4 linked regions of the Homo sapiens genome follow. The protein of the gene in region 1 purifies or fractionates together with the protein of each later gene. This does not show direct contact. Each region holds a gene or a part of one and is shown in the gene's direction. Other genes may lie near its edges. The genes, in order: UBAC2, TBC1D15, PCYOX1 and TBC1D17.

Region 1 (7,023 bases):
CAAATATACCCATAATCCACCATGCAGGTACAGACCATGCCTGGCCAGCCCCGCAGCCCATGGTGCCCCCCTTCCTTCCCACCTCTCTTCCTCCTTCCCACCTCCCTCCTGTGACCCCTTCCCCTTCTTTCTCCCTCCCTTCTGTGACCCCTCCTAGCACACATAGTCATCATCTTTGCGCTTTCCTGTCTCGTTTTACTGCTTAGTGTGTGGTTTAGGTTCATTCATTCACAGAAGTGGAATCGTGTTTTCAGGCTTTGGGTCTGGCTTCTTTCTCCCAACATGGTGTTTTTAAAATGCAAACCTTAAATATTCCGCATGAATTTGAGGCTTGGCATTTACATTCCAACAAAACACCCTGTTAAGATTTTATTTTGAATGATATTTAATTTATGTATTAATTTGATGAAAATTGGTATCTTAAAAGTTTTGCATCTTCCTATTCATGGAACTGGTATCTTTATTATCACTAGGGTTGGTTTTGAAAAAATATCCCTTATTATCTTTTTCTTTTTTTTCTGTCAAGGCCTTATATATATATTATTTATTTATTCCCAATTATCTTACAGTTTTTCTTGCTGTTATTTGCTAACAGTTTATTTTTTCTTTCTAAACAGTCTGTATTTTATCCCTGGTTGCTTTTAAGGATTTCTTTCTTTTGTTTCACCACAGTGGATCTAGATGTAAATTTCGTTTTAGCATTCTTTTAGGGACTCTTGCCCTTTCATCCTAAGGATTTATATTCTTTCTTTATTCTAGAAAACTCTCAGCTGTTTATCTCTTTAAATATAATATCCTTTCCCCCATATTCCCTCTGTTGTCTTCTTCTGGAACCCCTATGCTGACAGCCGCATGAGATGCACATAATCTGCCTGTGCAGAGGCCTTGGCCTTCCCAACCCACATGGACCCTCCTTGGTTCATGCCCTACACAGCTTTTCCCTTCTCTCTGTGGAGGGGAGAAAGGGTACATGGAGCATGAGGAGGAACTGGGGTGCCTCTTACCCAGACTTAAGTAACCCTCTACTTCTCTCCTCCTTCCACAGGGCCTAGACCCTCTAGTCCAGGGGTATCTAGTCTTTTGAACTCTTCTGTGACACATTGGAAGAAGAATTGTCTTGGGCCACACATAATATACACTAACACTGAAGATAGCTGATGAGCTTTAAAAAAATTGCAAAAAAATCTCCTAACTTTTTTTCTTTTTTTCTTTTTTTTTTTTTTTTTTTTTTTTTTTTGAGACAGAGTCTCACTGTGTCGCCCAGGCTGGAGTGCAGCGGCACAATCTCGACTTACTGTAACCTCCACCACCCAGGTTCAAGCGATTCTTGTGCTTCAGCCTCCTGAGTAGCTGGGACCACAGGTGTGTGCCACCACGCCCGGCTAATTTTTGTATTTTTAGTAGAGACGGGTTTTTACCATGTTGGCCAGGCTGGTCTCAAACTCCTGACCTCTTGTGATCCGCCCGCCTTGGCCTCCCAAAGTGCAGGGATGACAGGTGTGAGCCACTGCGCCCAACCTTGTAATGTTTTAAGAAAGTTTATGAATTTGTGTTGGACCACATTGAAAGCTGTCCTGGGCCACATGTGGCCCACAGGCCTCAGGTTGAACAAGCTTGCTCTAGTCCCTGTGCTTTTCTGAGTCCCACAGGACTCTCTGCAGGCATTTGGACTTATATGCTGCTTATATGCAGAGTGGTTTATAATCACTTGATAAGCTTTCTATTTTGTTAGCATGGTTCAGGATTAGTTTCTGGTTTCATGGACCTTGGAGTTTGTTTCTGTTTTCATTTTCTTTGTCTTGTACTATTTTTGAGTAAAGGGGCACAGAAATTATTTGAAACCAGAAGTTGTCCACCATTCACTCTTCAGCCTACTACAGTCTGTCTTTGGTACCAAAACTGTTCTTGTAAACACCTTGTTTATCAAACACCTCCATTTGCAACATCCAGTGGCTAGTTCTGTCTTACTTATCAGCTGCATTAGATATAGCTGACCATCCCTATTTTAAAACACTTCTTAGCTTCAGTGATAACTAAACTCTATTTCCCTTCTCTTCACTGGCAGCCCTGTCTCAGATTTCCTTACTGGCGTTTCCTACTCTGTCTGTCCATAGAATATTTGTGCACTCCTGGATTCAGTCCTTAGTCCTGTTCTCTCTTCTGCTGTGTCTCCTCCTCCCCCCCATTTTATCTCCTCTAGTCCTGTTACCCTAAATGTCATATCATATCCAGTGACTCTGAAATCCTTATCTCGACCTTTTCCTTGAGTTCTAGAATTACATAGCCACCTGCCCACTCAGTAGCCCCCCAAGATATCTAATAGACACTCCCAAGCTCGGGCTGCGCAGCATCTGCTGCTTTCTCTGCCCAAAATGTTATTTCCCCAGTTCATCAAGTCACGGGCACCGCATCATCCTTAAGATCTTCGCTCAAGTATCACTTTCTCTGAGGGCTCTCCTGATGTCCCCCGCTGCCCCCAGAGTAGGTTCGTGCCCCATGTCACTTTATTTCCTTCCCAGAACTTGCCAGAAATAGTTTTATGTGTTGACTTGATTACTGCCTGTTCTCCACATTGACTGCTATAAGCCCTGTGAGAGTGGGGCCTTGCTTATCTTGTTCTTTGCTGTATTCTAAGTTCCCAGAACAGTGCCTGGTGTGTAGCACAGTCTCAAAGAATTCTTGCCAATTCATCAATTTAAATTTTATTTTTAAACATTGAAGTATACTTTTCTCATATTAGAAAGTTGTCAAATATGTTCTAATCTGATCTTCTAATCCTAAGAATCAAATTCACATCAAGATTTTTTTTTTTTTACAAAGGAATAGCCATAGTCATTTTTAACTAGAAAATCATAGGAAGCCTTGAGACTTCTGTAACCATACATTATAAATGACCTTCAAGATGAAGACAAGGTTGGTTTATAAATGGAACTAATATTGGTGAGGATTTTAAATGTCTAGAAAAATCAGTAGTTGAAAAACTGATTAAAACACTATGTAAATAAAAACCAAGATTTTAGATTGTGTTTATTCTCTGATAAATTGATCGTGTGACTGGGTCAGCTGAGACATGGCAGTTGTTTTCTGCTGGTGTCTCTGTGATGGCCATCTGCCAACAAAGGTAACCGCAGAGTCAGTACAGTGTGAAAGTGTTTCAATAATCAGATCTTTTACGGCTTTTTAAAAAATGAAGACAGTGTCTTGACAATCTTTTACCAGAACTTTGAATACTAAATGATTAGAATTTTGCTAGCTCTTCTAATTCAATAAAAAACAATTTTGTTTTACTAAGTTCAATTTTGTGTTGATTTGCACTGCTTAGTGTTCTGCAGTGTGGTAGAGGATTTTGCTTATTGCCTAACACTGCTATGACTAAGAAAAATACCGTGTGCAGTGTCTGGAGGCTGCTGATTTTTGAGTCGTGTACATTTTTTAAAATAATACTACATTTAAACAATCACATTGGACGTTTTTCTTCTAGATGTCCGGTCTGTGCTACGACAGCAAAATGTTCCAGGTGCATCAGGTGCTCTGCATCCCCAGCTGGATGGCAAAATTCTTTTCTTGGACACTTGAACCCATCTTCTCTTCTTCAGAACCCACCAGCGAAGCCAGAATTGGGATGGGAGCCACGCTGGACATCCAGAGACAGCAGAGAATGGAGCTGCTGGACCGGCAGCTGATGTTCTCTCAGTTTGCACAAGGGAGGCGACAGAGACAGCAGCAGGTAAAAGTGATAATAATCACTAAAAATTTAGAAATTCTCAGTGGCCCAAGCAAATCTTTCCTCTGTGATTGCATGTGAGATAGAGACTACATTTTATTCCAGTGCCTTGCAAGTGGATTTTGACATTTCCAAAGAGATTGTAGGTCTCTGTTAGTGGCCATTCTTAGTTTTTTAAAAAGGTAAAAAATAAATTGCAGCTGAAAGATTGGTCAAACTGGACATTCTTGTTCCACCTATATTAGATAAGCATGACTTCTTAGAGAAACACCAACCTAGTTAACAAGATGTGCTATTTATCTGTTTTTATAATCTTGTAAAAGCCACAGTGTCTTCCTGTTAAAATGCTAATCATATGCTATGGAGTGAAGAACAAATGTAAAATTTCTTGATTTTCCTTGGTTGAAATGAAGAGAATATGAAGGCAAGAAGATTTTCAGTGGAACAACCAAGGAGTAGATAAAAAAAAATGCTGTGTTTTCTCAACCTTGCTATCAATAATCAGAAATTATTGCACATTTGTCTACAAATTCTGCATCCAAACAATCTGATACTACATTTGTCTTCCATGGGCAGTGAGAGAAGGAGGGTTAGTGCACATCAGGCTAAAACCTCAGGCCTGATCTTTCTTGGACACTTCTGTGAGCCAGCCCACAGGGCTCCCCATTTTTCGCCTCCACCTTCTTTACCCCTGGGGTAGTTGTAAACCGTACAGTTACCTCTGCCATCTCTCTGTCTTCCACTAGCATTGGATGCAAGAAGTAGGTCTGCAGATCTCACGATGGTTTGGAGAAGTGAAATCAGGTTTGAGGTCCTTAGAGTCCCATTGGAGATGCAGGTCCCAGAGTTTATATCAGGGGGGGGGAGGAAGGGGGCAGCTTATTAGGGGCAGAGTCTACAAGAGAAATAGAGAAGCAAAAGTTGTTTCTTAAAGATGTGCTTGAATTTGAGTGACTCTGGAACATGCCATAAAGATGCCCATGGTGTATTTAAAGCTGGAGGATGGACATCTCTGTCTTGGAAATGTGGAAGCTACATATATATATAGGTGATGGAGTCACCTCTGTAGGGATGAGAGCTGAGAGCCGAAAGCAAAGAAGTAGTAAGTTCTGTAAGAGAAGAGCTACATCCAAGATGAACACAGGCTACAGATGAAGCCTCGTATTTAGCAGGAGGTAAATCCTTCAAGGAAACTGAGAGAAGAGCGAAAGGTATGAGAAATCAGAATGATCAAGGTCAGAAAAACTGAGTAGTGATTGAGTATAAAGGTAGAGGCACAGAGCTTATGAGGGAGAGAAAGAAGTAGGGGATGGTTCTGATGTTTCTGGCCTAGATAATCTTAGATAGATGACTGATAGTTCCATTTCACCAATATCAAAAGAGCAGATTTGGGGGAAATATGTTGTCTGAGATACCTTTGGAATCCTGGGAGGAGATTCTCCATTGGAGAGCTTTGAATTTGTCCTCATAAGCAAACCAGAGAAGTTGCATTTCTCAGATTGGCCTCCCCAGGAAGATTTTTATACAAAGAGTTTATGAGAGAACACCGTCAGCATCAGTATCTATGGGGGCGGGCTGGCGAAGGCAGCAAGATGGGACAGAGGGAGCAGCTGCAGTTCCAGCAAAAGCCTCGCTGGTCTTATGGAGCACAGTGAAGCTGGGAGAGCCCTTCTGAGTTGTCCCAAAATGGGGACCAGTCCTGTTGGGTAAGTCCCATGCGTACGACCTCTTTGAACCTTAATTACCTCCTTAAAGTTCCTACCTTTAAATACAGTCACATCGTAGGGTTAGGGCTTCAGCGTGTGAATTTGGGGCAGGGGCAAGGGGTGGGAGACAGTGTGTTCCATAACACTGCAGAGTGGAAAGGGCCCAGCATAGTCTCGGCGCTGAGTGACTGTTCTGCTTGCAGACGGTAGTTATCAGGCACACACAGTCTCTGTGGATGCCAGGTTGGATGCTCCATAGTGGCAGGAGATAGGTCGGCCTAGGTGAGGGGGACCCACACATTCCTCTGTGCTACCACCATGGCCATCCATTCGTGTGCCAGCGCTGGGTTATCTGGTGATGGAGCCACAGTCATTCTGTCCACCTTCCATTTGGTGCCTTTTCTGTGGTGGATGCCCGTGGTGGGCACGACCTGCAAGACACTTGATGCTGTTCCTTTAGCTGGATCCTCCTTGTTCCCTCCCTTCCAGTCCCCTGACCGACCAACCAGGTGATCTGCCATGCCCAGCAGATCCACACGTGTAATTGCCTCAGGCCACTTCTCTTCACACAGAGTTGATGACCAAATGTGCTGCCCAGGCTCTGCCCATAGGGGGTTCCCCTGATCGCTGTCTTTCAAGATTGAGCCATCATGCAGCCGTTTCTTTCAGCTGCCACTCATGTCCTGAGCCAGCCTGTCCATTTGGCTGTTTTCCCCTCTGTCACTTGGTCATGAGGGGCCCACCAGCTGTGGTAGTCGGTGTTAGCTGGGAAGAGGCTGTGGTGCAGCAGAGGTGGCTGCCAGGGTGGTCTGGCATGCCTGCTTCTGCAGCTCACCCATGCCCTGCAGCCCCACCTATGCTGAGCCCAGATGCCCGTGTCCATCTGATGATGGGTTTCTGTCGGCCCACCTGGCTTGGTAACTTGGTGGGTCTCCACTGCTGACCACATGCTCACTTTGTGGCCTACAGACAGGCACTTCATGGTGCAGCAGCAGTTTATGCAAGTGGGATTCTTGGCTGTTTGCGCACGCCCTCGCTCCAGGATTCTACGGACCCCCATTGTGGTTCTCCTTTCCTGCCTTGCTGTAAACTCCGCACGGTGTCTTTCCCCCCAGATACTTGGAACATCACGGGATCTGCCAGGTTGTACCCAGGCCTCAGGGAATGAGACAGACCCAAACCCCTGCCCTGCTGGAGCGTGCATTCCCACCAGGCGCCTGTGAAGTGGCACAGGCCTTTATGGCTGTCTACACTGCTGTCAGACTCCTCCACTTTCATAGGATGGTCTCACTAACAGATCTGAAGTCCAGAGCAGGACACCAGCCCCTGGGCTCTTGCTGGGCTTTTACGTTGAGTGGTCTGCTGGGCAGCACAGACCAGACTCTTGATTTTTTCCTAAGCTTCCTAAGTTCTCTTCTAGGGTCCGCACATGGGTACACCCAAACCTGAGCACTTAGCCTCCTGCTGAACTTCTTCACTCAGCTGTGTCTCAGTTTTCTTCACATAAGTATGATAAATCACCACGTAGAGAACTCTTTTGTTAAACCACCACTGGAAATTATCTGCCGTATTTGTGTGCATGCACGAGTACCG
Region 2 (7,023 bases), on another chromosome or scaffold:
TGGTTGCTTGTTGGTAAGGCAGTCATTTCATCTTCGGATCTCCAGTTTAGTGGCCACTGTTTAAGATATGGAGCCATAGAGTTATCTGAACCCAGATAGCTGAAAGTTGCCTATTTGTTCCTCTTTTATATGTATAGGCAGTGGTTTGACTTTCATGAGCATTTTTTATTTGGGTTTTAAAGAAATAATTTGACTTAATTTATTGTTAGAAACAAAATGATGGCAGTGCCAGCAGCACTGTGCTAGGAATAAAATTTTGTTTCTTTATTAGCTACTTTTCTTTTCTGATGCTACATTTCAAAGTCCATCATTTAAAAAATGCCTTGTGAGAGAATCTGTAAGTCTGCCTATTAATTATGACCCCTCAAAATATTCAGAAAAGTAAATGTTTTAAAATGTATTTTTTTTCCCTCCTATGTCAAATGACTCAACCTCAGCCCCTTTTGAAAGGCCAAGGGGCTTATTAGCTACTATTGTATATGCAGATCGAGTGCTGTTCCTGACTGTGTAAGAATATAAGATCCTGTTTTGGATTTCATATCCACTCTAGCATTACTGTTACATCCTGTTATGTTAGAATTGAGAAGGGATAACTGTTATTAAAGATCTTATCTCAAACATTTATAATAAACAGGAGGTGTATAGCAGCAAAATAACACATTTAATTTTTATTTTAAACATAGAAAATTTGTAGATTTATTAGAACTGACTAAGTCATAAAACTCACTAAATAGAAAAAAGACTGGATAATTTGTCAGATGACTAGAAATTAGATGTCTGTTTTGGAAACATTTTGTTAAATTCTGTCATTACTAAGAAATGTGAAGAGACTTGCTTCTAGAGTTTAATAAGCAAGAACTAAAAACATAGTATTACCCAACCATTCATAATAATCTTGTTAAAATATGTTCATATGTGTGTGTTTGTAATTATGGTTAGCATGATTAATGATCTTTATCAAATAACTAATATAGCTTACATTTTTAACATCTTATATTGCAGTATTACTAAGCTGTGAATGAAGGTGGAAATGATTTCAAAATAGGACATATTTTCTGTATGTAAATATTATATACTGATGACTCCTAATGTCTGTTTTGGCTTTCTTTAATTTTTATGATAATAAAGCCAGCTATCTTGTAATGGTTTTCTACTATAATTCTAGAGAAGAATTTAGGTTCATTCCAGTTTAATCCTTTTGGCTTTACCTGGAATAAAAATACACTTTATATTTGTTTTATTTACGTTATATACAGTGTATTTAGTATTTGTTAATTTTGTATTTTATGTTTCATGTAGTTTTGAAGCTCCTTTAAAATAGTTACTAAATATTTGCTAATGTATTAATGGAAAACTGTTAAAATATTTTGGGTTTTTTTTTTTTTTGGTAAGGAACATTTGTGTTAGTAATTGTTCATGTAGTAATTGATACAGTGTGTTAGTATTTTCTACAAATCCTCTTTTTTATTATAGATCTCCACAGGATAAAAGAACACTTCTTGTGAATTGTCAGAATAAGAGTCTTTCACAGTCTTTTGAAAATCTTCTTGATGAGCCAGCATATGGTTTAATACAAGTATGTTCCTTAAATCTATCCTGTATTATTCTGACTGCATTATTTTATATACCCTGTACTTCTCATCTTCTCAGAGAGTATGCAAAATGAGACAGGTACATATATATACATAGATATGTGTGTGTGTGTGTGTAATCTTTTTGGAACTATTCTCTAATTTTACAGAAACAATAATAAGTTTTCATGTTATTTGCAAGACTCAGAGGCTTCCTTGGTTCTTAGTTACTCATAAGGAAATTTCTCAGTTTATTATAATACTAAAATTAGACATCAGTAGATTTGTATCATAACTTTTATTGATTAGGCCAGGGATCACAGAGTAGGCCAGTTTGAATTCATTAATGATCGGTTTAGGCAAAAATCTGGTTTGAATTTAAGTAGATTGTTTTGACGTCATGACAATCTTATTCCCCTAAGAATATTTGAGTACTGTTCTTACATTTGGCTAAAAATGTGCACTTAATAATAGGCAGAAGTAAATTTAATTATCACTCAGATGACTATGTAAAGTAATGAGATGGTTTATTCATTTATTTATTTATTCACTTATTCATTTAACAAATATGTGAGTGCTTGCTGTGTCCCAGCTATTCTTTTCCTGGTTTTGAAGATGTAAAGATTAATAAGATATAGAGGGAACTTTAGGAAAGAGGATGAGAGAGAGAACTAAACACTGTTTAAAATGGACAATAAAAGGATAATTTTACTTATTGTGAAAAGAATTATTTAATAAATAACTGTTTTTGCTAAATATGAATGAGCAAATAGTTTGGGCTTCAGAAGTTACCCTGGCACTTAACAGTAGAAAAACCTTTTGCTGTTTTCCAGGGTAGCACTGTCCCAGAATAAATTATTCTTGTTGGCATGATTTACTATTCATATAATTAGATTAAAATGTCAACTAATATTTAAATATGAGTTTTTAAATTTAGCCATCAAATATTTTGTGTCAGAATAGCATGGTGGTACACACTTCAAGAAATATTTTTTTTGTATGAAGGCAGGACTGCTAGACAGAAGAAAGCTGTTGTGGGCCATTCACCACTGGAAAGTAAGCACTGCGTATGTTTTCTGATGTATGCAGATTGAGTGAAGCCTGCAAATCATTTGTTTATCTGCAATTCAATCAGTAGCATTAACTTGTCATTTATTATGCTATTTTAACCAAATGAAATGATTGGCTTAGAAAATTTAAATTTTTCTTTGAAGAAAGAAAATACAAATTTAAGATAATCTTAGAACACTCTGTTTTAGTCCTGATTTCTTTTCTTTTAAAAAGCTTTGCTTTTTTGCTCATGATGGAGTATTCGTTTTTCTTTATTTGAGTTAATAATGCTAATATTTTTCTTCCTACTGCATAGAAAATTAAAAAGGACCCTTATACGGCAACTATGATAGGATTTTCCAAAGTCACAAACTACATTTTTGACAGTTTGAGAGGCAGCGATCCCTCTACACATCAACGACCACCTTCAGAAATGGCAGATTTTCTTAGTGATGCTATTCCAGGTCTAAAGATAAATCAACAAGAAGAACCAGGATTTGAAGTCATCACAAGAGTGAGTAAAGATTAGTATTAATATAGCTCTTATATTTTAACAGGAGAACATGTACTATAGAAATAGAAACTTAATTTTGGTGATATCTGCTTCTTTCCATAATCTGTTCTTAACAACTTTTTGCTAGTATATCTGACAATGAGTGCTTGTCCTGCCACTAAGTTCTTCATTTGTTCTCTATCTTATACTCTTTCTTGATTAATGTTGGATCTCTCTTCTTTGATTACCTTTTGATAATGAAGTTTGTTTCATTGGGTGCATAGCAGAGTGAGGAGCGAACCTTTCCTATTACCTCTTAGTTCTGTTCCTTACTTGCATGTTTTCTCATAGGCATCAGAGACAGCTAGTCAGGATACTACTTTTAGGGCTTTTATTCTCATGTAATACTTCCTTTTTTAAGTAAGATGGGTTTTGGCCTGAATTATGGCAGATCTTTATATGTGCTCAGTAAGATTTAAATTTGCTACAATTCTAGGCTTGTACATAGTTAGAAAACTATAAATATCTAAATTTTAGTGCTTAATTAAAGGGTTTATCTTGCAAATACTATTTTAAAATTACCAACATCTGTTAATTGAATAAAACACTATAGAAAATGCCGAGTGAAGCTAGTGGGTCATGAATCAATTCTGAGAAATACAAACTTTAGAAGAAAAGCTAATTTTTAGAATATGATTAATGGAATAATTATATATTCTCTCTTTTTAAATAATACAGCATATCATTTGGTTTGAAGGTTTCTTACAGAATTTACATGTTGAATGTTCTATACTTACATAATTGAACCCAAAATAGTAAAGAGCTTTCTTTTAATAACAAATATTTTTAGTCTGTGGGGTTTTCTGTTTCTGAATTTATAACCCAGTTTGTTGTGTGTTTAGTAGAAGGGAAATACATGTAATGCTAACTATTATAGTTAAACTAAACATGGGAAAATAAGGAACAATCTTAAAAGTATTAGAAGTCATGTCTGAAAAACAGTATTTTAAATTTAGTTTCTATATGCCTTTATTTCATTTCACTGGTTAAATATGTACTTATTATTGCTTAATCTTATTTTTAGATTGATTTGGGGGAACGCCCTGTTGTTCAAAGGAGAGAACCGGTATCACTGGAAGAATGGACTAAGAACATTGATTCTGAAGGAAGAATTTTAAATGTAGATAATATGAAGCAGATGATATTTAGAGGGGTAATTTAAACACTCTAATATGGCTTGTCTTATAAACTCCTAGTATTTAGGGGTTTTGTTGTTATCGTTACTGTTTTGGTGTGTTTTTTTTTGTTGTTGGTTTTTTTTTTTTTTGGTGGGGGAAGTAGGGAGGAATGAACTCTGTTATTTCTTTGATGAATGATGCCTTAAAATTCCTGGATTGAGTAGGACAGAGTGAGGTGCTTATGATGTTCCTGGGGGTTGGGTAGACCCTTAACTCTGGGGGAAGAATTCTTCCGTACTTGAAGTTCTGTGGGTTTTGTGAAGGAGGCCTGCATTCCAGTGGCATTTGCCTTATTCTGTAAGATTGGGCTTAGACTCACCAGTCACACTGTCTGTCTGCTGTAGTCTACTGTATTCTGTAGTCTACTGTATTCTGTGCACTGTTTAAACTTTCTGGCAGCTGCTTACATCTTTTGGATCTAGAAGTAAAAAACAAGATGATATTCACTGAATTGAACTATTTACATATATGAAACTACCTCTTAAAGATTAGTTTTCCTTTTTATATGCAAGTTTTGTGAACTTACAGTATTACATTCTTTTTCATTCATGTATTTAATATGTATGCTTTCTTCAGGGACTTAGTCATGCATTGAGAAAGCAAGCATGGAAATTTCTTCTGGGTTATTTTCCCTGGGACAGTACCAAGGAGGAAAGAACCCAATTACAAAAGCAAAAAACGTAAGTAATGGTCTTTCGTACATTTATCAAAGAGATTCAAGTAACCCACTCATACAAATTAGTATAGGGTTTCTAGATGAGGATTTGGAATAGACTGGGGAATGGAAAAACAACTTCATTTTTATGTTTTAACTTAAAAATTATGAGCATTCTAATTATTTTAAATCAGAAACTTACTAGAAGCACCTTTTTGCATTTATTTTTGTGAATATGTAAAAAGAAGATAAACATATTCCCTTATATAAGCCTTGTACAAGCCTTTTGCATACTTGAAAGATAACTACGTAGACATACACTTAAAAACATCTCTCATTCATCTTGATTCATTTTTATAATTCATTATGAAATTATAAATGGCTCATAAGAAATATATTTGCTATTTAGATTAATTACCTTTAAGTTACTTTTCTGATACTCTTATAATGGATCCTTCATTCTTTTTGGAAGAGTATTTCTATTTTAAGTTATTCCTCAGACTTGAAAGGAAACACAGACCAACTTTCCAGGTACAACTTCTTGTTCTCAGTTGTCAGTCTAGCCTTTGATTTAAAGCTATTTTCAGTCATTATGTGCATATTTAAGTTATCTGACAGTCTTCTCTTTTCAGCTTGTTTACCAGTTCTTCTAAGACATTTTTACATTAACTAGTTTCTGCAATAAACTGCTTGGAAATGGAACTATAATGTCACATTTTTTAAAAAAAAAGTCACTTAGATTTGTATTTACAATTATTTGGAAACTTTAGTGGTTAAAATATTTCATGACTAGAATACTTTTAGACATGATTTTAAGGATGAGATAAATGTTTTTGTAAAAGAATACCTAAAATTATTCTAGTAGTTGAACAAAGTTTATCACATAAACTTTGTGATATTTATCGGTTATTTTTTTCTTTTGTTTTCACTTATTTATCATAACTTTAAACGTTTTGCTATTGTTTTTATAAACTTACATTCCACTAGCATCATAAATGCTTTGATATACTGTTTATAGAAAAACCCAATTAAACAGTGTTAAAAATAAAGTTTTCAAATAGCTTTCTTTGATGTCAAATTGTTTTCTATAGTGATGAATACTTCAGAATGAAACTGCAGTGGAAATCCATCAGCCAGGAACAAGAGAAAAGAAATTCGAGGTTAAGAGATTATAGAAGTCTTATCGGTAATTTTTTCTTAACAACTTTGGAAATGCAAGGGGGGATTACATTGAAATCTTGATAAGAGTAAAGAAGTGAAGATACATGGTAATAGCACTAGGGCTCAAAAGAGAAATCAGAATAGGAAAGTACATTGCAGTGTGTGTTTAATGTTCTTTGTTGTTCCTCTTCCAATAGGCATATTAATTCAGTAAGTTTATTTATAAGTGTTGATATATTTAATTTTCAGTTCCAAAGTATGAATTTCTAAAAAGATTGTTTACCTTTATTTGCTTTTTGAATTAATTTCATTTTTAAAAAACTTTATTTTCTTTTTTATTATGAAAGTCTGTTTATTGTAGAAAAATTAACTGTAGATGAGCAAAAAGAGGTAAATAGAAATTATTTTTGTTTCTGTCACCCAGAGATAATTATGGTTAATAGGTATTGGTTTATATCCCTTCAGAACTTCTTTAAATATACATATATTTCATTTTTAAAATTAAATAAATGACTCCAGATATAAAATTTAGTATTTGAAAATAGAATATTTACCTGGGGATAACTATTCTCTAAAACACAGAGATGCTTGATAGAATTTTATCATTAAAGCATTAGTTGCATTTCATAATCTCCATTTACAAATGAGAAACTGAAGCATGGAGAACATAAATGACCTGTCCAAGGTCACACATGTCCCAGTTTAATGTTCTTATTACACTGTCTCTGTAATTTTAGGATAGCATTGGATAGTACTGGAACTTAGTTTTGAAATTCCTATATTGTATCTGGATTTGTATATCCGTGGTTTCATAAAGAATGATAGAGGGATTTGTTACTGCTGTTAACACCCTCC
Region 3 (7,023 bases), on another chromosome or scaffold:
GAGGGAAGCCCCAAATTCACTCAGATTACGTTCTTTCATTTGATCAGCATAGACACCACTGACTTAGCTGTGCTTTATGTTTTTGCAGGTCTCTCTGCTGTTCAGGCCTCTGGTGGCCTACTGGGGATATATAATGGAGAGACTCTGGTATTTGAGGAGAGCAACTGGTTCATAATTAACGTGATTAAATTAGTTTGGCGCTATGGATTTCAATCCCTCCGTATGCACATGTGGGTAGAGGACGTGTTAGACAAGTTCATGAGGTAATTTTTTTTCCTTCCATTTAACCTAAGATCTTTTAATTTAGGTTAAATTAAACTTGATGAACTTTAGGAATTATGATTTCTTGTAAGCATTTTCTACCTCACAGCAAGGCCTGTTTATAACATTGTTAGGCAAAATGTTTTGTAGAAACTATGCAGACTATTTGCTTGGATATTGAAAGGTTGGTTTATTTTTGCTTCTGAAGTGTATTTTGCAAATGCTTCTTTAGTGTTGCCAGATACTGTTAGATGCCTTGAATTCTTATGACAACTTACTCTGGTAGGTACTGTTTTTAGCTTCTTTAAACAGATGCAGAAGGTGGCGGTGTAGAGAGGTTTTAAAAGGCAAGTTCACCCACATAGTAAGTGGTATAGCTGGAGTTGCCACCCAGGCAGTCTGGCCTTTGAGTCTTCACTCTTAATCTCTATGCTGTGCTGGTGTTGTGTATATGAATTGAGATAATGTGTACAAGAGCTTGTAGAAAGGATCAGAAAACTTAAATGGCCTTTAATAGTGACATGTTTTCAGTGAACCAGCAGCCTGAAGTAGAGTAAAAGTTCCATATTCCAAGAATTTACATTCTAGCACTGTTTTGGGTAGTGAGAATTCAGGTGCCTCTTTTTCGTCCTTATGCTTTTCTATATTTAAACAGTTTTTTTAATGCGTGTGAATATGTATCACTTTGGTAATCAGGAAGACTAACATAAAATAGCCAGTCTAATTTTGAAAGGTACAATCTGTATTTTTAAAGCTGTTGGCATGTTCTAGTTTTTTAGTTTTTTTGTTTTTTTGTTTTTGAGATGGAGTTTCGCTTGTTGCCTAGGCTGGAGTGCAATGGTTCGATATTGGCTCACTGCAACCTCTGCCTCTTGGGTTCAAGCGATACTCCTGCCTCAGGCTCCCGAGTAGCTGGGATTACAGATGCCTGCCACCACGCCCAGCTAATTTTTGTATTTTTAGTAGAGATGGGGTTTCACCCTCTTGGCCAGGCTGGTCTCGAACTCCTGACCTCAGGTGATCCACCTGCCTCGGCCTCCCAAAGTGCTGGGATTACAGGTGTGAGCTACCGAGCTTGGCCGGCATGTGCTAATTTTTTTTTTTTTTTTTTTTGAGATGGAGTTTTGCTCTGTCGCCCGGGCTGGAGTGCAGTGGCACCATCTCGGCTCACTGCAACCTCTGCCTCCCTGGTTCAAGCGATTCTCCTGCCTCAGACTCCCGAATAGCTGGGATTACAGGTGCCTGCCACTGTGCCTGGCTAATTTTTTGTATTTTTAGTAGAGACGGGGTTTCACTGTGTTAGCCAGGATGGTCTTGATCTCCTGACCTCGTGATCCGCCTGCCTCAGCCTCCCAAAGTGTTGGGATTGCAGGCATGAGCCACTGTGCCCGGCTAGCACATGCTAATTTTTATGCTGCTTTACAGTTTTAGGTACTGGAGGCCAGGATCGCATCATTACACTCCAGCCTGGGTGACAGAACAAGATTCCATCTTGAGGGGAAAAACAAAACAAAACAAAACATGTCATATGACCAGGTATTGAACAGGACAAATATGAGTTAAGCAGGGCTGGGCACAGTGGCTTATGCCTCTAATCCCAGAATTTTGGGAGGCTGAGGCTGGTGGATCACCTGAGGTCAGGAGTTTGAGACCAGCCTGACCAACATGGTAAAACCCTGTCTCTACAAAAAATATAAAAATTTAGCCGGCGTGGTGGTGCATGCCTGTAATCCCAGCTACTTGTGAGCCTGAGGCAGGAGAATCACTTGAACCTGGGAGGCAGAGGTTGCAGTGAGCCACGATCGTGCCATTACACTCTAGCCTGGGGGACAGAGCCAGACTGTCTAAAAAAAAAAAAAAGAAAGCTAAGCAGGATATGCTCTGGTTTCTATAACTCATGGTAGTTTGGGGTTTCTTTCTTTCTCAACATCATTCTTAGGTCAGTTCCTTAAATGCCTTTCCCGTGGGTACCTTAAGTCCATCTACAGTGCATAATGTTTTTAAGTAGCCATTCATTCATTCACCCAATATTGAATACCTGTTAGGTGCTAGGCATTGTTCTATGTTGAGAGTATAGGACCTACAACATGTCCTTGTCCTCAAAGAATATATATTCTAGTGGAGAGACAGGCAATACACAACCAAGGAAATATATAGAATTTGCGTAGAGACGGCCAGTCACTTTATAGAAGGTGGGTGGCATGGTGCTGCATACTCAGCAGGCAGATCAAGTTCTGATGGCATCAGCCCTGCTTGTGTGTATTGTTTTTCTTTTCTTTTCTTTTTTTTTTTTGAGATAGAGTCTCGTTTTGTCGCCCAGGCTGGAGTGCAGTGGCGGGATCTCGGCTTACTGCAACATCTGCCTCCCAGGTTCAAGTGATTCTCCTGCCTCAGCCTCCTGAGTAGCTGGGACTACAGGCACATGCCACCATGCCTGGTTAATTTTTTGTATTTTTAGTAGAGATGTGGTTTCACCGTGTTAGCCAGGCTGGTCTCAAACTCCTGACCTTGTGATCTGCCTGTCTCGGCTTCCCAAAGTGTTGGGATTATAGGCGTGAGCCACTGTGCCCGGCCCTCTTTTTTTTTTTTTTTTTTTTGATACAGGTCTCACTCTGTCACCCAGGCTGGAGTGCAGTGGTGTGATCATGGCTCACTGCAGCCTGGACCTCCTGGGCTCAGGGGATCTGCCTACCTTAGCCTCTGTGTAGCTGGGACTACAGGCACGTGCCATCAGATCTGGCTAATTTTTTGTATTTTTTTTGTAGAGATGAGGTTTGGCCATGTTGCCCAGGCTGGTCTTGAATTCCTGGGCTCGAGTGTTCCACTCACCTGGGCCTCCCAAAGTGTTGGGATTACGGTTGTGAGCTCCTGTTCCCAGCCTTGTTTTTTTTTTTATCTGTGGCTTGCTTGAGATGTAGAGAATTGCCCTTTGAGAAATTAAGAAATTACTTTTTTTTTTTTGAGATGAGTTTCACTCTGTCACCCAGGCTGGAGTGCAGTGGTGCAATCTCGGCTCACTGCAACCTCTGCCTCCTGAGTCCAAGCGATTCTCCTGCCTCAGCCTCCTGAGTAGCTGGGATTACAGGCATGTGCCACCATACCCAGATAATTTTTTTATTTTTAGTAGAGATGGGGTTTTACCATGTTGGCTAGGCTGGTCTCAAACTCCTGGCCTTAATTGATCTGCCCGCCTTGGCCTCCTAAAGTGCTGCGATTACAGGCATGAGCCACCGCACCTGGCCTAAGAAATCACTTTTGAAGTGAATTCAAGGTATTACAGAACTGGGAAAAAGAACCAGTGAGGGGATACATAGGTTATACTGTTTTTGACTTTAAAAAATAATTTACGGGCCGGGCGCGGTGGCACACGCCTGTAATCCCAGCACTTTGGGAGGCCAAGGCAGATAGATCTTGAGGTCAGGAGTTCGAGACCAGCCTGGCCAACATGGTGAAACTCCGCCTTGCTAAAAATACAAAAATTAGCTGGGTGTGGAGGCGCAGCTAATGCCAGCTACTTGGGAGGCTGAGGCAGTAGAATCGCTTGAACCCAGGAAGCGGAGGTTGTGGTGAGCCAAGATCAAAGTATACACAAGGTGGAGAAAGACCTATGTAACAGTAGTAAACCATGACACTCGAAAGAGGGCTCAAGCTTGTGGTAGGCAATACTCGAAAACAGTGCATTCATTCATTCTCTGCTGTTGGAGGTACTTGAGTGGAAATCCTGCAGCCCCTGACATCAGCACTAGCTAGCTTAATTTCCACTTCTGCACATACATTTATGTAGTTGTTCTGGTTGGATGCCATTCTTAACTAATTTTTTTTTTTTTTTTTTTTTTGAGACCAAGTCTTGCTCCGTCACCCAGGCTGGAGTACGGTGGTGCAATCACAGCTCACTGCAGCTTTGACCTCCTGGTCTCAAGTCATCTTCCAGCCTCAGCTGGGACTATAGGCATGTGCCATCATGCTTGGCTAATTTTTTAAATTTTTGTAGAGACAGGGTGTTGCCATGTTGCCCAAGCTGATCTTGAACTCCTGGGCTCAAGTGATCCTCCCACCTTGGCCTCCCAAAGTGTTGGGATTACAGGCGTGAGCCACCGCGCTCAGCCGGATGCCATTCTTTACTCCCAAGTCCAACCTCTTATCTCACTTTTTCAGCAAAGCATTTCCTTAATGCTTCAATCAACATTCATCTTTCTTTTCAAACATCCCTTATTATACGGTGCACACTGTGTGCTTGTGTTCTATGCTACGCACAGTAACTAGAATGTAGTAGATGTTTACTCAGATGTTTGTGGAATTTAAATCTCTGGTCTGCTGATGGCTTCCTGTTGAGATATCTTGGCTTGTAGACTAGGTTAAAGCTTATTCTTCTCTCTCAAGTTAGTGCATTTCTGGGGACTTGTAAGATCCTTAACACTTCTTGATCTGAGACTGATAGACTCACAGGGAAAGGCTTTATAAACACCCTTTCTTCCTTCCAGTTACTCCTACCAAATATTTTGAGTCAATTTTTGTTCTTTCATTTCCCAAACCCACTCTATCTTGAATCCCATCAGCCTTTAAAATACATCCAGTATTCCACTACTTCTCTCCAGGATTACTGCTACCACTTTGTTCCAAGTCACCACCACTGTCTCTTGTCTGGATTGCTAGAGTAGCCTCCTATTATAGGCTGAATAATCCTCTCCCCTGCTGTCTGCCACAAGATGTCCATGTCTTAATTCCTGGAACCTGTGAATGTGTTACCTTTTGAGGTAAAAGAGACGTTGCAGATATGGTTAAGGATGGGTAGATTATTCTGGATTATCTAGGTGGGCCCAATATAATCACAAGGGTCCTTAGAGAGGCAGGAGGATCAGGGTAGGTAGTAGGAGATGTGATGATGGAAGGAAGAGATTGGAGTGATGCTAGGAAGGGGTGTGCGTCCACGAGCCAAGGAATGCAGGTGGCCTGTAGAGGCTGGAAAAGACAGTCTTCCCTCAGAGCTTCTAGAAGGAACCAGCCTTGTGCACACCTTGATTTTAGCCCGGAGAGACTGACTTTGGTCTTCTAATTTACAGAACCGTAAGATTATAACTTTTTTTTTTTTTGTTAGTATTTATTAATCATTCTTGGGTGTTCTTCGGAGAGGGGGATTTGGCAGGGTCATAGGACAATAGTGGAGGGAAGGTCAGCGGATAAACATGTGAACAAAGGTCTCTGGTTTTCCTAGGCAGAGGGCCCTGCCGCCTTCCGCAGTGTTTGTGTCCCTGGGTACTTGAGATTAGGGAGTGGTGATGACTCTTAACGAGTATGCTGCCTTCAAGCATCTGTTTAACAAAGCACATCTTGCACCGCCCTTAATCCATTTAACCCTTAGTGGACACAGCACATGTTTCAGAGAGCATGGGGTTGGGGGTAAGGTCATAGATAAACAGCATTCCAAGGCAGAAGAATTTCTCTTACTACAGAACAAAATGGAGTCTCCTATGTCCACCTCTTTCTACACAGACACAGTAACAATCCGATCTCTCCTTCCTTTCCCCACATTTCCCCCACTTCTATTCGACAAAACTGCCATCGTCATCATGGCCCGTTCTCAATGAGCTATTGGGTACACCTCCCAGACGGGGTGGCGGCTGGGCAGAGGGGCTCCTCACTTCCCAGACAGGGCGGCTGCTGGGCGGAGGGGCTCCTCACTTCTCAGAGAGGGCGGCTGGTCAGAGAGGCTCCTCACCTCCCAGACGGGATGGCGGCGGGGCAGAGACACTCCTCAGTTCCCAGACGGCGTCGCGGCCGGGCAGAGGCGCTCTTCACATCTCAGACGGGGCGGCGGGGCAGAGGCGCTCCCCACATCCCAGACGATGGGCAGCCGGGCAGAGACGCTCCTCACTTCCTAGACGGGATGACGGCCGGGAAGAGGCGCTCCTCACTTCCCAGACTGGGCGGCCGGGCAGAGGAGTTCCTCACATCCCAGACGATGGGCGGCCAGGCAAAGACACTCCTCACTTCCTAGACGGGGTGGCGGCTGGGCAGAGGCTGCAATCTCAGCACTTTTGGGAGGTCAAGGCAGGCGGCTGGGAGGTGGAGGTTGTAGCGAGCCGAGATCACGCCACTGCACTCCAGCCTGGGCAACATTGAGCACTGAGTGAGCGACACTCCGTCTGCAATCCTGGCACCTCGGGAGGCCGAGGCTGGCAGATCACTCATGGTCAGGAACTGGAGACCAGCCCGGCCAACACGGTGAAACCCCGTCTCCACCAAAAAATACGAAAACCAGTCAGGCGTGGCGGCGCGCGCCTGCAATCCCAGGCACTTGGCAGGCTGAAGCAGGAGAATCAGGCAGGGAGGTTGCAGTGAGTCGAGATGGCAGCAGTACAGTCCAGCCTTGGCTCGGCATCAGAGGGAGACCGTGGAGAGGGAGAGGGGGAGGGGGAGGGGGAGAGGGAGAGCTGTTTTTTGTTTTGAGACAGAGTCTTGCTCTGTCACCCAGGCTGGAGTGCAGTGGCACAATCTTGGCTCACTGCAGCCTCCGCCTCCTGGGTTCAAGCAGTTCTCTGCCTCAGCCTCCCGAGTAGTTGGGATCACAGGCGCCCACCACCATGCCCGGCTAATTTTTGTATTTTTAGTAGAGATGGGGTTTCACCATCTTGGCCAGGCAGGTCTTGCACTCCTGACCTCGTGATCCACCCGCCTCAGCCTCCCAAAGTGCTGGGATTACAGGTGTGAGCCACTGCACCCGGCCGTAAATTTGTGTTGTTTTAAGCCACTAAGTTTGTGGTA
Region 4 (7,742 bases), on another chromosome or scaffold:
TGGGCTCATCCTCGTCCTCCTCGTTGTCCTCTCTGGCCAGGGTAGGCCGGGGTGGGCTGGGTGTGGGACTGGGTGGCTGTGGTGCTGGTGGGGGCGCAGGAGGCCGAGCAGCAGTGGCAGCCCTGTGGGCCAGTGCGATGTCGTGGAGGCAACGGCGCGCTGCCTCCGCCAGGGCTCCTCGACCATGGGCAGCATAGGCACAGGGGCCCGGGCGGGGTGGTGGCGGCGGGGCCGCGGTCAGCAGCACCAGCTCCGTGCCAGTCCGGGCCCGGAAGCGCTCAGCGGCCCCCACCACGGCCTCCCACAGCTCCTCGGGGCGCCCCGACGCCATCCGCGCCCTGCGGGCCAGAGCAGGACAGAGGGGGCTGAGGCTTGGCGGCCTACATCATCGCCACCCACTCAGAGTGCCCGCCCGTCCCCTGGATGGCACTCACCACCCTCCACCCACCTTGTCCCAGCGGTGCTGTGTGTCCTCCCCAAACCTGCTACTCCCCAGGATTCTCACCATCCAGTCCTCGCAGGCCCAGACCCTGGCGACGTCCTCTGCCCCAACCCATTCCTCCTGCCCCAAGTCACTGTACTCCTTCCCCTTTGGCCCTGCCCTGGCCTCTGTGGGAGCCGCCAGCCACATGTGAACAGGGAGTACTGGAAAGGCAGGGAGTCCTAGCAGAGAGTCCTAGCAGAGAGGCCTCTAACAATAAAACCTGCACTGGGTTCTGAAGACTGAGTACAATAAAGCCGAACGAGCCGGGCGTGGTGGCTCAGGCCTGCAACCCCAGCACTTTGGGAGGCCGAGGCAGGCGGATCACCGAGCCCAAGAGTTCGAAGCCAGCCTGGGCAAAAAAAAAAAAAAAAAGGAATTTCATCTGCTTTTTTTACTCTTTTAACATGGTGTCTAGAAAATTTAGAATTCCACGTGGGGCTTGTGTTGAATTTGATGGATGATGCCACCCTGCTCCGTCGCCCAGCCATCCCGTCAAGAGTGTCCTGCACAAGGCCCAGGGGGTTCCTTCAGCACCCGGAGCTGATGCTACTCCTCGCCATAGTCCTCAGGGCAGGCCCTGGAGGCTCTAGGTGTTCTGGCCATCCCCAGCTCCTGGGCCATCCTGCCTCCACGGCCTTCCAGAGCCTCTGAGGCCCGAGGCCTTCAGAAAACGTGGTCCCTGACCTTGATGACTTGTGCTCCATTCCCCACCAACCTTTCACTCATCCTAGGGTGGAAGAAACTTTCCCTCGCCCATAGATCCAGCCAGTCTGCTCCATAGGGGGTCCCACACTGTCTGAGTGGCCACCTTCCCAGCACACTTCCTTCCAGAGGGAACTGGCTGGTTCTATGACTGAGGCCTCAGAGAGTCGGGGCTGAAATGGTGCTGGCGCTGCTCTCTGTGCTGGGAAATCCACACGGCTTTTCCTACAAGACTGTTCTGGCAGGTCCTCTGTTGTCCCTGATCCCCCAGGGTGCATCAGATGACTTCAGGAGCCCATCCGATGCCCTGGGCTTCCTCCATGAGCATTCATGTCACCTGAGCTTGTGACAGCTGTAACCTGGCTGCCTCCTGCATCAGACTGTGAATTCCCCCAAGGTCAGGGATTTGTGTTTGCAGGACAGGTCGGCCCTAAGCAGACAATGCAGGGTGCGTCTCCTTACTGGGTGAGAAGAGCGAGGGCAGGGGGGCTGGGTCCTTGCCCTGACTCTGTCTCAAACCTGCTGTGTGACCTTAGATGGCTCACTGGCCCTCTCTGTGCCTCATTTTCTTCCCCATTAACCAGCGTGGTTGAGCCAGAGCTGCTGGGCTGCGGAAGACGCTCTTCCGGGAGGCAGTAAGCACACCGCCACTGCACGGATTCAGGCACAGCTGTGGTCCAGCCCACCAGGGTGAAGGGAGCAGGGAGTCTGGAGTCTGAATGAAATTTGCAGGCCTTTTATGACTCACGATCATTGATGTTGGTGTTTGCTGAGCACCTATTCAGTGCTGGGATTCCACACCTGGCATCTCACCTATCTGACTCACTCAGGGAGTTCAAAGCCCCAAGGGAAGGAAGAGGTTTATCCACCACCTCCCAGAAGCCACGCAAGGACCCAAGATGGGATCAACCTTCTCATCCCACCCTTTCACCTACACTATGAGACAGGAGCTTTAGTTACAGTTCACCCCATTTTACAGTTGCAAACTCAGGCCCAGGGGCAGTCAGCATCTTGAAGGGCCACAACTGGAAGAGGCAGGGCTGGGACCTGGACTCAGAAAGTCTAGATCCGGGGCCTGTTCTAAATCCTGACCGCCATCCTGCCTGCCTTTAGGAGGGCAGATATTCTAATCCAGATGGAAAAGTGAGGCTCAGAGAGCTTAGGACACTGGCAAAAAAGCACACAGCTACACAGGGCACAAGTGGGGCTGAAACTGTGAGGCTCAGAGAGCTTAGGACACTGGCAAAAAAGCACACAGCTACACAGGGCACAAGTGGGGCTGAAACTGCTGACTGCCCAGCCCCAAAACCCCACTGAACTGGGGGGTACCCGGTGTCTCAAACACACCCATGTCCTTCCCAGCTGATGAGGGAGGAAACTGAGGCTCTAAGCAAGAAATGGCTGGTCCAAAGTCAACTGCCTCGCCGTGCTAGGCCTGGGGCTCTCACTTCCACGGGCCTCCAGCCCCTAATGACATGCGGAGAAGAGGGGGAGAGGAGGTCCCGGAAGAGAACGTCAGGATGAACTCTCCGTGTACTCAATCTTGGAGTAGCCACGGGATTAAAGAGTGAAATAGGGTGAGTGAGTTGTGAGGGCTCCCCCAACTCAGGAGACATGAGCAAAAAGGACAGGGCGACTTCCACAGACCTCTTTGCCAAGGTCCAGGGGCACCCTGTAATGCTACCCAACAGGAGAGTAGCCAAGACCTGGGGGTCCTCCTTACCCTTCAGCTTCTAGAGGAGGTCCTGTTTCCTCCAAGGAGCTGAGAGATGGAGGAAGAACCCGCCCCGATAGACGAGTTTCGTGTAAGATCAGGGAGAGATTAGAGGAAAGTGAGACGTGTTCCCCACAGGAGGGGGAGCACGATGTGGCTGTCCTCTTTGGATGCAGGGAGGAGGGAAAAGAGCTAAGGAGGAGAGGGGTGGAACCACCCCTCCTGTCGAAATTTTAGTACCCCACACCCCAAGATGTGAGGAACCTGAGCATGAACGCGGTAGCCATGGGGTGAGCGCCTGGGGCCACGCTCAGCTGCCCCGAGACCTCCCAACCTCGCCCGGGGTCCAGGGAGGACCCACTGGTCTAGGAAGAAAACAGGAAATCCCGCCCAGACGGAGGCCAGGACCGGAAGTCCCGCCTTTGGACGGGTGAGGGGCGCCCCGAGGCCCCCCAAACCATCCCCCGACCCCGTGGACGTGGTCCACGGCCCAGGTAGAGATCCCAGGCGCTCTGGAACCGCAAGGTGAGACTGTCTACGATTTGCCTCAGGTCTGACAGGACGATTCCCACGGGCGACCCCCTTCCAGCGCTCAGCAAAGGATCGCTGGCAGACCTCTGCCCTCTGATCTGTGCAGGCCATACCCCTCCCGTGAGCCGCTCGCCCTCCCAGCGCCCCGCTGCCTCAGGACGGCCAAATCCTCCCCACACCGCGGTTAACAACGCCGCCTCCACTCACGTGCCCGTAGCCAGCATGGCCGGCCCGGCGCCGTCACCGCCCTCAAAAGACATGGCGGCGCCTTGCGTCACGTCCGCGCAGTTGCCCCGCCTCCTCTCCGCACACTCCGCCTCCCTTATCGGGGCCGCCCGAGATCAAGATGGCGGCCACAGGGGCTTCATCCGAACCAGTTGACAAGGGTGACGACAGCTTGCCCCTAAGAAAAATGGCCCCGCCTAGAGCATTTCCATTTGCCCCCAACAATAATGGCCGTCCTCATATGCTCAATCATGACCACAGTAAACGAAGGCAAGCGACCTGACGTCCCTGACCCACAATAAACTTCTTCGACAAAAGTAGAGGAAATCGGTGCTCGTTAACAACATGGCAGCCAACCGGGCTTAATCAGCCCATAGTGTATATTGGCTCTCCCTCCCTCCAACCTGCTCCCATTCGGCACGAAGGCTGGCAAAGATCCAACACGGCAGCATTTCTTGCTTCGGTTTGCCAGGCTTCAAAATGGCGGCTCAGCCCGCTTTCTCGCGACGGTGACTCAGAAATTCGTCCGGGGCCGCTTCGTTTCTGGGGGCACTGACGGCTTCATCCCGTTATCCTGAGTCCCTCAGTGCCTCTTGTGGTGTACAGCTCCTCTCACCTCCTCTTCTCTTATCCGTTCGGCTCTTCCAGCTGTCGCGCCCCGCAGAGAGATGGGACAGCCCCGTATTAACATGGCCTTAGCTGACCGGCTTAGGCCATGCCCTCGAGCAAAATGGTACCTCCTTGGCTTCAATTCCAGTATACAATATGGAGAAGGAAGTGGGCGTTTCAAGGCGTGCTTGCCCCAGGTGGTGCAGCTCTCAGACCCTCCCACTTGTTTACTTCGTGGCGAGAGGGCGAACACTGCGCCTGCGCACTCTCCGTAGCCGGATCCACCTTCAGCGTCTGCGCCACGTGACTCCGATCCACCCTCGAGGTTCCAGTGGAATAACCCCCTTCTGAAAAATGGTTTCACCCGCTCCTTCTCTAGAACGGGTCGGGCCGCTACCACTGTCCGGCCCGGAGGGGAACTGTTTTCTCCGGAAGTGACAACACGCTGACTAGGAAAAGGAGGAGGCGGGGCAGTGGGGCCTTCGGCGGCGACTATGGAAGGAGCCGGCTACAGGGTAAGCACTGAGGACGCATTCCCTCGCTTCAGTGTATGCGAAACGCCCCGTCTAGTGATCAGCTCTTCTCTCAGGCCTTGGCTCTCGAGAATCCGGCACGGCCTTGGCAAACACCGATCTCTTATAAACGCGCCGTCACCCTCCCGTCCACCGCCCCAGGGAAGAACCTCCCATGGCCCCGCCCCCCCGGCTCAGGCGACTCCTTGAGCCCTGCCCCCTGTGGAACGCACGTCAGCATCCGAACGCGGGCTGGACCATTCTCCCCGCCTTGGTCCCGGGGCAATGGCCCTCCCGGCCCCGCCCCCTGAGGGTGGCTCCTCCCTGGGCCCGTCCCTATTGGCTCCCCAGGCTGGTCCCCTCGCTTGGGCCCCAGCCCTCGCTGGTTCCCCCCAACTCAGGTGGTGTTTGAGAAGGGCGGAGTGTACCTGCACACCAGCGCTAAGAAGTATCAGGACCGAGACTCTCTCATCGCTGGTGTCATCCGTGTCGTGGAAAAGGTGCGCTGGGAGGGAGCAGGGCTCGGACCCGCTCCGAGCGGGATGCAGGCGGTCTGGGATGCAGGCGGCAGCTGTAGGAGTTTGGTCTGGCGGTCAGCAGTGGGACCTGAAGAAGGCTGGGTGTGGGAACTGGAATGAGGGGCGGGACTTTGAAAGGCTGAGGGTAGAAACTGGGAAAGTTTGGAAATTTGCAACGGAAAGTTTTGGGAATGTGGTTTGGGGAGCGCCTCTAACCCCGCCTCCCTCCTTACCCTAGGACAATGACGTCCTCCTGCACTGGGCTCCTGTAGAGGAGGCTGGAGATTCCACCCAAATCCTCTTCTCCAAGAAGGTAGGCTCCACCCGCTTTGCCCTTCTCCACTCGCTTTTTTTCTAGGTCCGTGCTGTTGTAAGTCATTTGAGGGACCTGCGTACAATCCCAGACCTACTCGTGGGGCATGTGTGACCCTGTTTAGGCTTGGGTACTCTGCCTCTCCTTTTGCTCCTCTCTGTGAAATGGGCAGAGGATGCCCATTCAAGGAAAAAGAGCAGGGAGCATAAGACGCACGGTCGTGGGGACGGCTGACCCCTCTCTCCCTTTGCTTCTTGGGAGATCCCTGCCAGGGTGCAAGATGTGGATTCGAGTTGCTTGAAGGGAAATGGCATTTCCTCTGGTGCCAGAGGACAGGGCCTGACAGCCTACTCACCCACTTCGTCACTGCTCCCGGCTTTCCCTTCGTTATGTCTCCTGGGACTTCCCATGGCTGGACCCCGTCCTGGGCAATTCTGAGACCCAGAGATAAGTCAGATCCAGACCCACCTAAGCCCTGACCCTTACTCACTTTTTGAGAAACTGATAGATGAGGTCGAAAACGCTAGGAAGTGTTGGAACTTTTTGCACCCAGACAGTCTGATTCCAGATCCCCAACGCTTCCTGGGAGAGCAGACATTTGAGCTGGGACTCCCAGGATATGAAAGGACAAGAAGGTATTTCAGGGACAGCAGAACAACCTTCAAGGCACACGGAGAAGTTGGATGCCTCTGTAGGGGGGTTCTTTAGTGGGGAATGAGACCTCCATTGGAGCTGATGAGTTCCACCCAGGGGCCGGAAGTCAGTCGGCACCCACAGAGCTAGTGACGAGACACTGGAAGGCTGAGCTGACCACCTGCGCTGCCCCAGGGCAGGAGGATGAAGATGAAGATGAAGATGACTCTCCACCTTGCTCCACAGCCAAACACAGCCAAGGCACCAGGAAGTTGCGTTACATCACTTCCGCTTTCCAGGTTGGCCTGCATCTGGTTGGTAGAATTTGTCCTGTGTCCTGGATTCCAGCTGCAAAGAAACCTGGGAAATGTAGTGTGTTTTTTTTGTTGTTGTTATTGTTTTTTTTTTTTTTTTTTGACAGTCTCACTGTCTCAAAAGAGTGCAAAGTGGTATCTTATTGTGGTTTTGGTTTGTATTTACCTGGTGAGTACAACAGTGTCCATTGAGCACTCCGCAGCCTGACTGCAGAGCCACCTGCTGTGTAGCATGGACCTCCCCATGCAGTGGGAGACATGGGGTCAAGTCCTGGCTCGCTCTCTGGCTGCATTGGGTGACCCTGAGCAAGTGCTGTACTTTCTTTTTTCTTTTTTTTTTTTTTTTTTTAATGAGACAGAATTTGCTCTTGTTGCCCAGGCTGGAGTGCAATGGCGCCATCTCAGCTCACTGCAACCTCCGCCTCCCAGGTTCAAGCGATTTTCCTTTCTCACCCTCCCGAGTAGCTGGGATTACAGGCATGCGCCACCATGCCTGGCTAATTTTTTTGTATTTTTTTAGTAGAAACGAGGTTTCTCCATATTGGTCAGGCTGGTCTCGAACTCCCGACCTCAGGTGATCCGCCCGCCTCAGCCTCCCAAAGTGCTGGGATTACAGGCGTGAGCCACCGCACCCGGCCTGCTGTACCTTCTTTGTGCCTCAGTTTCCCTCTTTATTCAATGGGGCTATCTTCCAGGGTAGCCTCGAGGCTAAGATCTGAATCCATGGCCCCTTACTGTCTGCTCCTTTCCTCTCCTAAGGACTCCAGTGGGGGTGACTCATGTGCTTCTGAGGAGGAACCAACCTTTGACCCCGGCTATGAACCTGACTGGGCTGTCATCAGCACTGTGCGGCCACAGCTCTGCCACTCAGAGCCCACGAGAGGTAGGCTGAGGTGGCGGCCCTTGAGAAGCACGTGTGGGCCAGGTAGGACACATCTTGCCCTCAGTGGTCACGGTCCCAAGGGCTTTGCTGCCCACAATCAAGAAGGCCACCAGTCACCACCTTCCAGTCCCAGGAGCATGGAAGTGAATGGGAAGACAGGACTGTCCCAGCCCAGGTCAACATGGCCAGTGTCTCTGAGACTGCAGCCTTGCTCATCCTACTGGGCTCCCGGATTGGCTGTGGGTGCTCCCACACCAGGCCTGCCCCTGAGGTTCGAGGCTGGTGGGGTGACAGATGCAGCCAG

What was found.
Region 2: the proteins of UBAC2 (region 1) and TBC1D15 purify together in Homo sapiens (affinity purification with mass spectrometry; 4 studies listed by BioGRID and IntAct, with this or other methods). This does not show direct contact.
Region 3: the proteins of UBAC2 (region 1) and PCYOX1 purify together in Homo sapiens (affinity purification with mass spectrometry; 2 studies listed by BioGRID and IntAct, with this or other methods). This does not show direct contact.
Region 4: the proteins of UBAC2 (region 1) and TBC1D17 purify together in Homo sapiens (affinity purification with mass spectrometry; 2 studies listed by BioGRID and IntAct, with this or other methods). This does not show direct contact.

Annotation. Positions count from the first base shown.
Region 1 is NC_000013.11:99,336,839-99,343,861, forward strand, and holds part of UBAC2 (ubiquitin-associated domain-containing protein 2 isoform 1 precursor), read left to right. Parts: intron 1-3,481; coding exon 3,482-3,727; intron 3,728-7,023. UniProt on the Homo sapiens protein: Restricts trafficking of FAF2 from the endoplasmic reticulum to lipid droplets.
Region 2 is NC_000012.12:71,891,749-71,898,771, forward strand, and holds part of TBC1D15 (TBC1 domain family member 15), read left to right. Parts: intron 1-1,002; exon of another isoform or gene 1,003-1,057; intron 1,058-1,473; coding exon 1,474-1,576; exon of another isoform or gene 1,577-1,671; intron 1,672-2,049; exon of another isoform or gene 2,050-2,051; intron 2,052-2,576; coding exon of another isoform or gene 2,577-2,627; intron 2,628-2,937; coding exon 2,938-3,135; intron 3,136-4,198; coding exon 4,199-4,327; intron 4,328-4,928; coding exon 4,929-5,032; intron 5,033-6,098; coding exon 6,099-6,193; intron 6,194-7,023. UniProt on the Homo sapiens protein: Acts as a GTPase activating protein for RAB7A. Does not act on RAB4, RAB5 or RAB6.
Region 3 is NC_000002.12:70,261,124-70,268,146, forward strand, and holds part of PCYOX1 (prenylcysteine oxidase 1 precursor), read left to right. Parts: intron 1-88; coding exon 89-263; intron 264-7,023. UniProt on the Homo sapiens protein: Prenylcysteine oxidase that cleaves the thioether bond of prenyl-L-cysteines, such as farnesylcysteine and geranylgeranylcysteine. Only active against free prenylcysteines and not prenylcysteine residues within prenylated proteins or peptides.
Region 4 is NC_000019.10:49,872,965-49,880,706, forward strand, and holds the start of TBC1D17 (TBC1 domain family member 17), read left to right. Parts: upstream 1-4,737; 5' UTR 4,738-4,759; coding exon 4,760-4,780; intron 4,781-5,178; coding exon 5,179-5,277; exon of another isoform or gene 5,278-5,392; intron 5,393-5,533; coding exon 5,534-5,608; intron 5,609-7,314; coding exon 7,315-7,438; intron 7,439-7,742. Other genes in the region: AKT1S1 (proline-rich AKT1 substrate 1), read right to left, coding at 1-338, 3,639-3,691. UniProt on the Homo sapiens protein: Probable RAB GTPase-activating protein that inhibits RAB8A/B function. Reduces Rab8 recruitment to tubules emanating from the endocytic recycling compartment (ERC) and inhibits Rab8-mediated endocytic trafficking, such as that of transferrin receptor (TfR).